2 linked regions of the Homo sapiens genome follow. The protein of the gene in region 1 interacts with the protein of each later gene in a biochemical or structural test. Each region holds a gene or a part of one and is shown on either strand. Other genes may lie near its edges.

What was found. The genes of interacting proteins can lie anywhere in the genome.
Region 2: of the proteins of MARCHF6 (region 1) and SQLE, one has a biochemical effect on the other in vitro, tested with the Homo sapiens proteins (one study listed by BioGRID).

The regions. Positions count from the first base shown.
Region 1 is NC_000005.10:10,349,467-10,356,702, reverse strand, and holds the start of MARCHF6 (E3 ubiquitin-protein ligase MARCHF6), read right to left. Parts: upstream 3,009-7,236; 5' UTR 2,805-3,008; coding exon 2,786-2,804; exon of another isoform or gene 1,661-2,785; intron 1-1,660. UniProt on the Homo sapiens protein: Endoplasmic reticulum membrane-associated E3 ubiquitin ligase that plays a critical role in mitigating endoplasmic reticulum stress, the regulation of cholesterol and lipid homeostasis, and ferroptosis.
Region 2 is NC_000008.11:125,015,497-125,022,522, reverse strand, and holds the end of SQLE (squalene monooxygenase), read right to left. Parts: intron 4,465-7,026; coding exon 4,322-4,464; intron 3,893-4,321; coding exon 3,796-3,892; intron 1,740-3,795; coding exon 1,652-1,739; intron 771-1,651; coding exon 578-770; 3' UTR 240-577; downstream 1-239. UniProt on the Homo sapiens protein: Catalyzes the stereospecific oxidation of squalene to (S)-2,3-epoxysqualene, and is considered to be a rate-limiting enzyme in steroid biosynthesis.

The sequences.
Region 1 (7,236 bases):
GAGAACCGGCCAGGAACGGTAGCTCACGCTCGTAATCCCAGCATTTTGGGAGGTTGAGGCGGACAGATCACCTGAGGTCAGGAGTTTGAGACCAGTCTGGCCAACATGGCGAAACCCCATCTCTACTAAAAACACAAAAATTAGCAGAGGGAGGTGGCGCGCTCCTGTAATCCCAGCTACTCAGGAGGCTGAGACAGGAGAATCGCTTGAACCTGGGAGGTGGAGGTTGCAGTGAGCAGAGATCATGCCACTGCACTTCAGCCTGGGCAACAGGGCAAGACTCCATCTCGGAAAATAAAATAAAATAAAATAAAATAAAATAAAATAAAATAAAATAAAATAAAATAAAATAAAATAAATAAAAAACAGAACCACAACAGTATAAGTGTTTTCAAAAGTAGGTGATACTGATTTTTTTTTAATTTAGTTTTATGTTTGGCCATACTTTGAATATCTCCTACCAAAAAATTTCTAAGCAGATTTAAAAAACCTAAGTCGCATTTTTTAAAGAAATAACCTATAATAACTGATTTCACAAATAGAACATTTTTTATTAGTTTTTTGGCATCTTTGCTATATCATTTTTAATCCTCTATAACCCTCCCTTTTCCTTTAAGTGTTATTTCAACTTAAATTTAATTGTAAAAATGTCAGAAGACTTCCAAACTGGAATTTTGCAAAAGCAGGCATGAGAATACGGCACTAAAATTCACTTGCATTTCATGACTAATAATTTCATAAAACAAAATAAAGCAAAATAAAGTTTCCACCAAATTATATAAATGATTCATCCTATAGAGGGAGTGACAAAAATAAATTTCAACATTGGACTTGTAGTATACACTCATAAATAAATAATCTAATTTAAGTGCGACTCTGACAGACATGAGTCTGAATCTTGCCTCTGCCATTTACTACCTGTATTATCCTGGACAAGTTACTTAATCATACTAACCATCAGTTTCCTCATCTGTAAAATGAAAATGCCGACTACCTAACGATGTGAGAGAATTAAATGAAATGTATATAAAGTGTTTAGTAAAGCACATACTACACGTTGAGTCTTCAGCACATGTTATTTTAACAGGCAACAGTGTTCAATAAATAAATGTTATGTATACCTTATCCTGATTATAATTTTACAAGAGAAAAAATATATTTAAGCACTAGAAGTACAGTGAAAATATTTCATGATTCCATACGTGCTTCGAGCGCAATTCCTGAATTACCACAGATTACTGTCACACCATAAAAGTATGCAAGTAGCAATGCCCAGGCCAAAAGAATGAGAATTGAATGTAATACGTCCGTACCTATCCTGTGATAAATACATGCCTTACTAGATTTACTCATTAAAACCTGAATCTAAAAGGATGTGAAACCTATGTAGATGGAAATTTACACGCAAGGACCACCTGTCAAAAAGAAATAGTTCGCAACCTTCAGCAGTTTCGCTTTACTATTTTTTCCAAAGGCGTCTCCAGTGGCGATTAGCTACACTCAGTGTATATAATAAACACACTGTGGCATAATGAAAGGGAAATTACTTGCAATCAGAATGCCTAGGTTCAAATCTGCCTCTTACTACCTGTGTAAAGCTTCGACAAGCTATTAAAATAACGAAGCCTACATTTCCACATCTATAAAAGATAATACCTACCTATTCCACAGGCTTTTTACGAAGATGGAACGCGAATGTACATCAAGTGCCACATGTTATAGTTGAGGTATTTATTAAAGGCAAGACTTCTTTAAAAAAAAATAAGTCGTTATCAACTCATTACATAGATAATATCAAACTTTTTTCACTCATTATTGCACTCCATGACGGCGTTTGATAATTCATTTTCGTTTAAAATCGCCAAAATCGCAACCCATAAGGTTGAAAGACGCTCATACCCCCATAAATATACCTAAAGTAGAAAAGCATTTGCACGATAACCGGAACATCAAAAAAAGCAAAATTTAGTAATTTCCTCTATAAACTCACCACTCATTTAAAAACACAGCTGGTTAAAAATAATCTACTACCTTCAGTGGGTAAGAAAATGCGTTTGAAGAGACATAAGGTGTGGACGTTTATATCTTAAGTATTCATTTTACAAGGGTCAGTTTGTTCAATGTAACCGTATCCAAAACACAAGCAATCGCAAAACAAAACAAACAGAACCCTGCTTATAGGTGTCAAGGATTTAAAACCAAATGGATCGCAACAAAAGAGCCTCCCCGTTTAGTAAACAGATTCTCGAGCGGCAGGCAAGCCGAGGACCAGGCTTTTCAACAGGGGTCAGCTCACTCCACTCGGCCGTCATCTGGCGGGGTATTTTTCGCGAAGTTTCAAAGTCAACAAAGAAGTTCTGTCGCGAGGGGGTAGGGCCTGGCGAGCAATAGGCAGAAGGACGTAAAGAAAGACAAAACCCAGTGGGGGAAGGGTGCGGAAAACGCCCCCGGACGGCAGCGACAGAGGCCCCCTTTTCTGGGCCAGCGCGCGACGGCGGGGACAAGGGAGGCCACGCCGGCCTGCAGTAGCCCCGAGGCCCCGACCCCGGCCCCGGCCCCTGCCCGGCAGGGTCCCCGCCCCCCTCGGCGGCGCGGGCGGGAAACGGCGGGGGGCGCGCAGAGGGTCACCTTCCGCTCCCCGGCCCAGAGGCCCAGCGGGTGGACAAACGGCCCAGGCGTCCGCCCCGCCGCGATCCAGCAGCCCACCTCGAGCGCCGCGGACCTGGCCGGGGTACGAACCCGGGCGCCGACGCAAGGGCTCGGGCGCCGCGCGTCGCCGACTTACCTTCCTCCGCGGTGTCCATCTTGTCTGGGGGGGCGGCGGTGACGCAGCCACGAGGCTCCCGCGGCCGGGCGGGGAAAGAGGGAGGGGAGAGGAGGAGGGAGCCGGGCCCGGGCAGGTGCGTACGCTCAGGTGCGAGAGAGGAAGCGAGAGGAAGGAGAGGGGAGAGGGAGAGGGAGAGAGGCTGACAGAAAGCGAGCGACACGGGAGGGGGAGGGGCGGGAACACCTAGGGGCGAGGCCTGGGCGGGGCGCCGAGGCGGAAGGGGCGGGAGCTCCCCAACGACAGGCGCTGTCACTTCCGGCGGCCGCGGCGTGCACTGTCGGTCGGCGGCTAAGGAGGGGAGGCACCTGCATCTGGGGCGCGGCGAATCCTCGCGTGCGCCAGGCCGCCTGGGGTAGTCGCCGAGACTGCGCCGGCCAGCGGGGCCGAAACCTAATCAGGAGCTGAGCTTTGATGGCGGCTTCTGGAGGGACAAAGAAGGCGCAGAGCGGTGGGAGGAGGCTGCGAGAACCTAGCTCCCGCCCCAGCCGACGTGCGAGACAAAGGCCCCGGCGCGGGGCTCTTCGGAAGGCCGGGAGGTTCCTGTGACAATGCGAGTCTGCGCCCCACGCTCCCGCACCGTGATGCCGAGGCCAAATGGCTAGAGTGGGCCCAGGCATCAGCATTTCTGTTTGGCAGCCGGGCAGTTGTGGTGCACGTTTTGAGGAACTACTAAAGCCTGCCTGTGATGAAAAAGGCAAAAGCTGACTTCACCAAAATTACTCCCAGGGAGACTTCTGCATTTGGCTGGAAGGACATTTGAGTAAACCGCTGAGGCTGGTGGTTGAAACATAATCCTCTAAGGGAGATCGGTTCCGATACCCTGAGTTAGGGACGCTTGCCTGGGCAGAGCTAAGGGGAGAATGATCAAAAGCCAAGCTCTGTCCCCGTCAGCACGTCACCCTCCCTCACTGTAATCCCTGACTGTTTTCTCTAAATGAAGAATTATTTAGAGAATATAAATTAGAAGGGCCGCCACGTCAGAATTGCCTGAGTGGGAGCAGTCTTTCCAGCCTCGAAAAATGTTTAAACAATATGCAGATGACCTAGCACAAATAAAGAATGCTAGCAACCGCTGTTATGTGTGAGCGGTGGAATTGGGAGGGCTCTTCCCCCAATCTTCATCAAACAGAGTAAGGTTTAGAATAAAAATAATGAAATACAGTCTTTCAAAAAGAGCAGCGCTTGACTAATGTTACTGATGTCACTCATGTTACTCAAGGGAGGAAAGAACTCAAACTCTACATAATAATACCCACTGATTTCAAGGGCTGGCACGGAGAATTAAGCAGACCGCCATTCTTTATATTTGTTTTTTTGTTGTTGTTTGCTTATGATTTTTTTCTTTCTTTTTTTTTTTTTTTTTTTGAGAAGGGGTCTCGCACTGTCACCCAGGCAGGAATGCAGTGGCGCGATAATGGCTCACTGCAATCTCACTATATTGACCAGTATGATTTTCAACTCCTGTCTTTAAGCGATCCTCACGCTTCGGCCTCCCAAAGTGCTGGGGTTACAGACATGTGCCACTATGCCCTGCCTAAATATGTTTATATATACTACCGCCAAAGAAACAATTTGAAGACGATCTTTCCCCAGCCCCTCTCCTTCTGATCCAACTCCAAGAGCTCACCCTCCCTGTAAGACCTGTAGCAGAGCACGTATTGGCCTGCTGATACTAGGGGCAAAGACCGGGCCGATCAGATGTTACATGGCATAAGGGCGAAGGATTCTGAAAGAAAGACTGAGACTTGCTGGAGGAAGTACTAGTAGTGCCAAGGGCAGGTATGTGACCCTCGGAGCTGCAGAGCCAGGTTAGGATGAAGGGAATGTGTGTGTATGGGGGGCGTGGAGGAAGCCTTCCTTTTGTATTTAGGTGCCTTCCCTTGTGATGTTCAAAGGAAAGTTAACCTGTCAACCAGTTTTCCCTTCTGCATAGTAATTCCTTCTGGAATTGCCCTAACCTTTTCGCATTCAGACTTTAGGCGTTAAATATAAGAGTAATAAACCAACATTTGTTGAGTCCCCACTGTGAGTCAGGCACAAGTTCTCACAACAGCCCTTTGAATACATGAATCAGTCACACCTCTCTTGGTTGCCATTGACAGGAACTCAACTGTTAGGCAGAAGGGAGGAATGTACTGTTGATATGGACAGACTCCAAGAAGGGGAGGGACTGCTGGGACTACTAGAACGAGAATGCCTCTGCCCCTATGGCTCAGCTCTGCAACTCTCTCTGCACATTGGCTTCATGCTGTTAGACCAGCTTCCTCCATATGTCTGGAAACAAGGCCACTGACAGCTCCCAACATTTCATCTTCTGCCTCATCATCAGACAGGCGAGGTAAGGATGATGATCTCTAGTCCCAAGTTAAAAATTCTCAGGGAAGGCTAGTTCATTGGTCCAGCTAGTTGCCTGTCCGTGAATCAAATGATTGTGCCAAAGATCTAGGATCTTTAAGAACATGGACATTGTCATGTTCTTGTAACTGCCATTTCAGGTAAGAACAATGTACACTACCTTGTGGAAGTAGAGAAAGACCGTTTCCCACAAGAAGGGGGAGGACCAAACAATAGATATCCATTACAATTAGAATTCTCATTGTCCAATCAAGAAAAATACTTTTTTTTTTTTTGAAACATTGTTACCGAGGCTGGAGTGCAGTGGCATGATCTTGGCTCATTGCAACAGTCCACCACCCTGGCTTAAGTGATCCTCCCACCTCAGCTTCCCGAGTATCAAGTAGCTGGGACTACAGGCATATGACGCCCAGCTAATTTTTGTGGTTTGTTTTTTTGTTTGTTTGTTTTTGGTATAGATGGGGTTTCACCATGTTGCCCAGGCTGGTCTTGAACTCCTGGGCTCAAGCAATCCGCCCACCATGGCCGCCCAAAGTGCTGGGATTGCAGGTGTGAGCCACTGTGCCTGGCCAAGAAAGATCCTTTATTAAAGACATAGTATACCCATGATTCCAGCCTCGTGTGTGTGTGTGTGTGTGTGTGTGTGTGTGTGTGTACTGTGCTGCGAGAATGCTATAGCAATGCTGGCTTTCCATACCCCAATAAGCAATGAGTAAGAGGGGAAGTGTAGGGGGACACAGTGTAACTGTAACAAACTAACAATGACAACTAACCAAACTCCTTATTATGTCCAATGAACATCCATAGCAATCCTGTGAAGTAAATATTACACACTTTTTTTTTTTTTTGAGACAGAGTCTTGCTGTGTTGCCCAGGCTGGAGTGCAGTGGCGTGATCTCAGCTCATTGCAACCTCTGCCTCCTGGGTTCTAGCAATTCTCTGCCTCAGCCTCCTGAGTAGCTGGGATTACAGGTGCCCACCACCATGCTTGGCTAATTTTTGTATTTTTAGTAGAGATGGGGTTTCACTATCTTGGCCAGGCTGGTCTTGAACTCCTAACCTCGTGATCCACCCGCCTCGGCCTCCCAAAGTGCTGGGATTACAGGCATGAGCCACTGCACCCAGTCCAATTTTTTAAAAAATATATTCTTGGGACAGTTGAAATTGAAAAATTGAAACTTATATAGATTCTGTGAACGGTCTTGTAGCGATGTTAACTTCTTGATTTGGAAGATCCTTGTTTGGGGAAATACCCACTATAGCATTTAGGGGTAACGTGGACTCAGGTCTGAAGCTTGTTCCCAAATGGTTCAGAAAAAGACTAATTGTGTGTGGGGTCAGGGCAGAGTTAACATTGGCGAATCTGGGTGACGACAATGTGGAGATTGTCTTGCACTCTACTTGGAACTTTTCTGTGAGTTTGAAATCATTCTAAAATCATTTTTTAATTAAAATTACTAGGTACTGATAGAACTCTAAAGCAATAGTTATCAAATTTGAGGGTGTCTCTATCACTGGCACCTTTAACAATCTGATAACATCTATGGATTTTGTTCCCAGAAAAAATTGGTTAAACACAAAACATTGCATGAAATTTCAGGGGGGTATATAGATGCCTTGAACTCCATGCATGAATCCTAGGTTAAAAGAACCTCTCATTTAAAGTACTGAGAAAAGTGGTGATGTTCGCTTCCCTTTCTAAGACTATGGCAGACTGGGTTTTTTAGACCAACAATTGGAAATTCTATATAAAATATAGAAAACAGATTCCTAAAAGCACTGAACGCCTGACAAAAATAGTAAGGTAACTACCAGGCCAAAAATTTTTTTTTTTTTTTTTTTGAGACAGAGTCTCCCTCACTCTGCTGCCAAGGCTGGAGTGGTGTGATCTCTGCTCACTGCAACTTCTGCCTTCTGGGTTCAAGCAATTCTCCCGCCTCAGCCTCCTGAGTGGCTGGGATTACAGGCATGTGCCACCACTCCTGACTAATCTTTGAATTTTTGTGGAGACAGGGTTTCACCATGTTGGCCAAGCTGGTCTCAAACTCCTGACC
Region 2 (7,026 bases), on another chromosome or scaffold:
AGTCACAGCCCCAAAATAAAATAAATAAATAAATAAGTAATTTTTTTTAAAGAAAATAACCTTATCAAATTGCTTCACTGGATAGATGAGGAAATCAAGGTCAAGACATTAAGGCAACTTCCCCAGTTATTTAATAGAACAGGTTTCCCTCTGCACTTTTCATCCCACTTTGGTTTTCTTTTTCATTATCATGAAGCTATGTAAACGAGCCCACAACAAGAAACAAAAAGACACGAAAGTTCATTCTTCATTTTATTTGCATGTCCCAACAACTCATCTCAAATACTAAATTCAAAAGAAAAACTGTAGTTCTCCTCAGCATTAGCACTAATTTATGGTAACAATCATTTCTTTTAAATGTCTAACTTATTTAACCCCTTCATTTTAAATTGCAAATTAAAGCATGTATTTACATATTTATATACAAAAAACTTCAAAAACAAATTAATCCAAATCTTGGTCCAAGAGTTTCCACTTTATAAGTGGTATGGTACTATGCTATATATATCCTCTTCCAAAAGTCTCTTAGGACTTGGTAAGTTCCAAATATTCATTCACAAATGGTTCCCCTTTAAGCTTAATGAACCATATACTTCATTTCTGAGTAAATTAGAGGAAATATTACAGAACACGCTTTGTACAATACAGCACCACTACTGAGAAGGGCTCGAGGTTTTGTAATCCAAGGTTCTGACTTAAAGCAAAAATACACGGCATAGATTGCAACAGCAAAGAAGTGTCCAATTAAAACTAGAGGGTTAGGAGACAATCTGTAATAGAAAAAAATACATATTGGTAAGACTCAGAAACTAAAATTTACTCCAAAGGTTCCAATTACATATAATCTACGAAGCTCAACAAACATCCTACTTTTTTTTACCCAAGCATCATAATTCTGTATGAAACATTCTACATTTTAGAGGACGTCACAAATATGTCTGCATGTTAAGTTTGATGGCAGGAGCAAACCCCCCACCCCCCTTTTTTTTTTTTTAAGAAAAAATACTTAGAATATATCCCTTTCAGAAAAGCTAGTAACTCCTGTAACTCTAGTTTACATAAGTCATATATTTTTAGCTGTTTGTTTACTCATCCTGAGACACCACGCTGAAATATCTAGATGGCCTGGTCTGTTGGGATGTAGGGCTTTTAAAAATATCAGTATTAACATTCAGATTATAGATTATGAGAAATGACTCAAAGGATCACTTTGCAAATGAGAAATAACTCGATAGATTTCACTTTGTAGACTTTCCAAGAATAGTTCCACATATGTCTGTACGCTCAAAACTAATACTGGGTTGTATAAGTCCCCGTACTTCAATGAAACTAATTCTTAAATTAAAATTTCTCAATTATTCCTGGCTCCCACAGACCAGAACATATGGATAAATCCATAGGCAAAAAACAAGCTTCTATTTTAATCAAGGGTTATAGCTTCCTCTACCACCACCTTTAACTGCTGTTCCCTAGAAAGAAAACAGTACTAAATATTGCGTTTCTTCATTTCTTTGGGCCACCTTCTCATTGGGATACTAACAGATAATAAAATATCAAAATGTGTAAGGAAGAAAGATTTGCAGTAATTCATCAACTGAACAGTCCTAAGAAAATCTGGCAGGTTTGTATCCTCTGTGCCATCACAACTTACACAGAAAGCAGCCCAACAGGACCCGCAACACATTCGCCACCAAGTTTGAAATAAAGAAAACAGGCTTTTCTTAGTTGATGCAGGGAATCTAAAATAAAATTGTAAAATAATCAAATATGTGTACACACTTATGTAGGATGCTAATGATATATCAGAAAAAATGAGAAATAACAAACGCTACATCTTGCAGATAATTTTTAAATATCTAGTCCTAGAATTTCAACAACCAGGATTTCTTCTGAATTCCATAATCAGCATTATGGAGAGTAATATAAATATGAATAAACTTTTTTCTGTTAGTAAATAACTACTAATATTTAGGTCTTGGAAGAGTTGTTTAAAAGGTACTTCCTTGATTTTGCTGTTAATTCATTAAGTGATGCAAAATACTTTGGAAGCTCTTTTTAACACAATTCTAGAAACCAAATTCCCAGTCTCTAAGATGTCCAACCAGTATCTCTAACTAAGCAGTAAATTATCAAGTGAAGAGAGCTGTGAGTAGCGATAAATAATAATTCCTTATATCTATAAAGTTTTTAATACCTTTCAAAGTAACTCATAAAACCCTCACAATGTAGTGTAATCAATTGATAACCTTTTTAACCATTTAGAATCAATGTTCTGTTCAGGTATGCCCAGATTTTTCTTTACAACAGATTTTAAAAAGTAAAGGATGCAACAGGTAAACTTTTGCTCCAATAAAGGTCTTTCCTCCTCCAATCTTGTAACTTTTAAAAAATGTTGTTTTGTTGGTAGATTTAAATTCATAATGTTAAGAACTCAAGAAGTTAGAAAAGCTTAGAAAGAAGAGCTCAGAAAAACTCTTAAATTTAGTTCTTTTTATTTGCCCAAAACTCTAAACTTAGTTCTTTTTATTTGCCCAAAACTCTAAACTTAGTTACTTTCATTTGCCCAACCAGCCATTTTAACTTCTATGCCAATTTAGCAAGAGAAATTTGTTTGGAAAAATCATAACCAGTGAGATTGGTGGGGTTTTTGTTTTGTTTTTTTTCCTTAGGAAGAGTTAATGGTTATAGAGGCTACAGAAAGCATTTTTATTGTATCATCTTTTGTAATTATAACCACAGCACTTATCACTAGGGCCTCAGCCAGATCATACAAATAGCTATGTTGCAAATATACTAGAGTAGTGGCATATGAGTCAGTATTTATTCTTGAAAACTGAAAAGCCTAGTTTCATTAACCTACTATTAAACTGATGTGTACACTGCTGTGGTGAGGAGGTGGCACAGTTGCCTTTTCTCCTCCATTTCTTTTAATTTTTTGTTTGTTTGTTTTAGAAGATGAAGTCTCACTCTGTTGCCCAGGCTGAGTGCAGTGGCACTTCATATAGCTCACTATATATAGCTCACTGTAGTGAGCTATATAGTCCCAAATAGCTGGGACTACAGGCACACGCCACCATGCCTTGCTGATCTTTTAATTTTTTGTAGAGATGGGGTCTTGCTTTATTGTCCAGGTTGGTGTGAAACTCCTGGCTTTAAGCGATCCTCCTGCCTTGGCCTCCTGAAGTGCTGGGATTACAGGCATGAATCATTTCGCCTGGCCTCTTTTCCTCCATTTCTAACACTGCTTCTGCTAAGTTGTGTTTTCTCTAATATATACATTGACCGTGACCTCTGTATAATATGGAAACAGTAACAAAAGCACCAAAATAATCCAAATAAGTAAAGGGTGAATGCATTGTTACTTGTGCTTTTCAACAGGGACAAGATTAACAGCTTGTATTCATTTTATAAAATACTACTTTAAAAAGAAATTGAAACTAGTGTTAGGAAGAAAAAGACTACATTGCCTTTTAATACATGGCCAAAAACACCTTCCATCACAGTCTTGTGTGTGTGAGGACAAGCATGATCTAGTCTGCACCAGAGGAATTCAAAATAATGAATATGTTACTGAGGCATTGCTATTAATGTTGTCTAAGGAAATTCCACTACCTTCCAAACTAAAACTAAAACTACAACTATTGCTCAAAATGGAATTTTAAAAAACTACCAACTTGGGAGTTAGCAAACTCAGGTAACATTTTTATTTCTGGACAAATCACTAACTTGTTTATTCCTTTCCTACGCTAAAAATCTGCAATTGAGTAATATTCACTAAAAAGTGTCTACACTTACCATCTGTGGCAGAAAATAATTCATAAAGAGCCTGAGCAAGGATATTCACGACAAAGGAATGAGATGTTTTTCTTGCCCAGTAAAATGATTTTTTGGCCTAAAAAAGAAATAGCTCATTTATTATATGGTAAGGATAAAAAAGCACAAACTGATGTTTATAATCCCCTCAAACTGATACTTATCCTTCTAAGGACTATCTGCAAGTAATATTGCCTTATGTTTATCATTTACAAAAAAAATAAAAAATCACCTTCAGAGCAATGGGTTATATGACACTGAAGCTAAATTTACAACCACTATGAGCTAAGTGGCCCATAGCAATCAAGTGTTACATAATATTCAAATTTAGAAATTCTCTAAGATTCACAGGTTGCAAGTCAGGTTCTTTAAGCCTAAGCAAGATGCCTAAGAGCTATTATAAAGCATCAGGTTCCTTAGTACAGATCTCCCCATCAGAGCCCCACTGCTCTTAACCCCCAGAAATAAATCCATTTTGAGACATTTTTGTCAAAATAATTGATCTTACCTCGAAAATAGCTGCATCATCATAAAGGTCAGGGATACCCTTTAGCAGTTTTCTCCATAGTTTTATATCTTTAAAAGCAACAGTCATTCCTCCACCAGTAAGTGGATGCCTCATATTATATGCGTCTCCCAAAAGAAGAACACCTATGAAGAGAGGTAATGAAGATTTTATTTTAGAGCATCCCTTGAGACAAAACAAAAAGGATAACTCAATGTATAAAGATTACTGATGTAAGCTAATAATAAGAAAAATGTGAAAATACATGAAAACAAATCATGATTAAAATTTGCTGAGGCAAAAATTCAAGAGTTGTTTGAATCAATGTTGGGTACCTAATAGGTGGCCAGGCACTGGGGATATGGTAATAACAAGAGTGTGGCCTCTGCCCTCATGAAGCTCATATACAAACCTAATGACAAGTCCAATAATGTCAATACATTTGTAAGGCCTCCTTAAAATATGAAGAAAATAAAAAGAATCTACAGGTATCCAGGTATACAAAGCAAGTCCTCTGGCGATCATCCCCCTCCCACACAGGAAAGCACCTTCATAAGAACCAAAAGTCAGCCTGGGTACCAGCTTGGCCAGTGAGACAGAGCACCAAGTGGGTTCCTGGGGTCCCTGATTCTAGGTCTTGGCACCTGGACAGCATTTTTGGATCCGTCCTGGGTGAGAGGGGAGCCCATTGTACTGAAGGGAGAGACCCAGGTCTGGCAGCATTCACCACCAGCTGACTGAAGAGCCCTGGAGCCTTGAGTGAACACCAGCAGCAGCCAGGCAGTACTCACTGCAGGCCTGGAGCACTGGTGGCCATGGGGAGAGGCTCCTTCTGCTTGAGGAAAGGAGAGGGAAGAGTGGGAAGGAATATGTCTTAAGGTTTGGGTGCCAGCTCAGCTGCAGTAGAATAGAGCACCAAGTAGATTCCTAAGTTTCCCAACTCCAGGCCCTGGCTCCCAGACAGCATTTCTGGACCAGTCCTGGGCCCCCAGGAGCTCACTGCCCTCAAGGGAAGGGCACAAGCCTGGCTGGATTTGTGCTGACTGTAGAGCTCTTGAGTCTTGAGGGAACATCAGCGGTGACCAGGCAGTCATCACCACAAGCCTTTCACCAATACCCAGTGCTGTACTGGCTTCAGGTCTGACTCAGCACACGCCAGTCATGGTGGCCACAGGCATACCTGTGTCACCCGTCCCCCACAGCTCCAGGCAGCTCAACAAAGAAGGACAGACTCTGTTTGGGGGAAAGTAAGGGAAGAGAACCAAGAGTTCTTTTCCTGATAATCCAGGGAATTCTCCCAGATATTACCCAAGACCACCAAGGCGGTACCTCTACAAGTCTGCAAGGGTCACAATGTTACTGGACTTGGGGTGCCCCTTAATACAGATACGGCTGCTATGACCAAAGACTTAGATCACAACACTCACTTCCCTTTGAATACTTCAAAAGCGTTCCCAAGAAAGATGGGTACAAACAAGCCCAGACTCCGAAGACCACAATAAATACCTAACTCATCAATGCCCAGACATTGGTGAACATCCACAGTCATCAAAACCATCCAGGAAAACATGAACTCACTAAATTAACAATAATAAATAAGGCACCAGTGACCAATCCCAGAGTAACAGAGATGTGAGCTTTCAGAGAATTCAAAATAGCTGTTTTGGAGAAGCTCAACAAAATTCAAGACAACACAGAGAAGGAACTCAGAATGCTATCAGGTAAGTTTAACAAAACAACTGAAATAATTTAAAAGAATCAAGCAGAAATTCTGGAGATAAAAAATTCAATTAACTTACTGAAGAACATGGCAGAATCTCAACAGTAGAACTGATCAAGCAGAAGAAAGAATTAGTAAGCTTGAAAACAGGCTATTTGAAAATACACAGAGGAGACAAAAGAAAAAAGAATAATCAAGAATGAGGCACACCTACAAGATCTAGAAAATAATTTCAAAAGAGCAAATCTAAGTTCTTGGCCTTTAAAAGGAGATAGAAAGATGAGGGTAGAAAGTTTATTTGAAGAAAAAATAACAGAGAACTTCCCAAATCTAGAGAAAGATATCAATATTCAAGCACAAGAAAGCTACAGAACACCAAGCAAGGATTGGTGATTGATTTAATCCAAACAAGACTAGTTCAAGCCATTTAATAATCAAACTCCCAAAGGTCAAGGATATAGAAAAGATCCTAAGAGCAACAAGAGAAAGGAAACAACAAACAATGGAGCTCTAGTATGTCTGGCAGTAGACTTAGTGGAAATCTTACAGGCCAGGAGAGAGGGGCAAGACACACTGAAAGTGCTGAAGGAAAAGAACTTTTATGCTACAATAGTATATCCAGTGAAAATATCCTTCAAACATGAAGGAGAAATAAAGACTTTCCCAGACAAACAAAAGCCGAGGGACTTCATCAACACCAAACTTTCCCACAAGAAATGCCGAAGTGAGTTCTTCAATCTAAAAGAAAAGGACCTTAACGAGCAGTAAGCAATTACATGAAGGTACAAAACTCACAAAAGTTAAAAAGCAAGGAGGATAAAGTGTAGAGTTTTTATTAGTTTTCTCTGCTCGTTTGTGGAATCAGTTGTCATCAGTTTAAAATAATCGGTTATAAGATATGACCTGCAAGCTTCCTGGTAATTTCAAATCAAAAGCCTACAAGAGGTAGGCAAAAAAATTAAAAGCAAGAAATTAAAACATACTACCA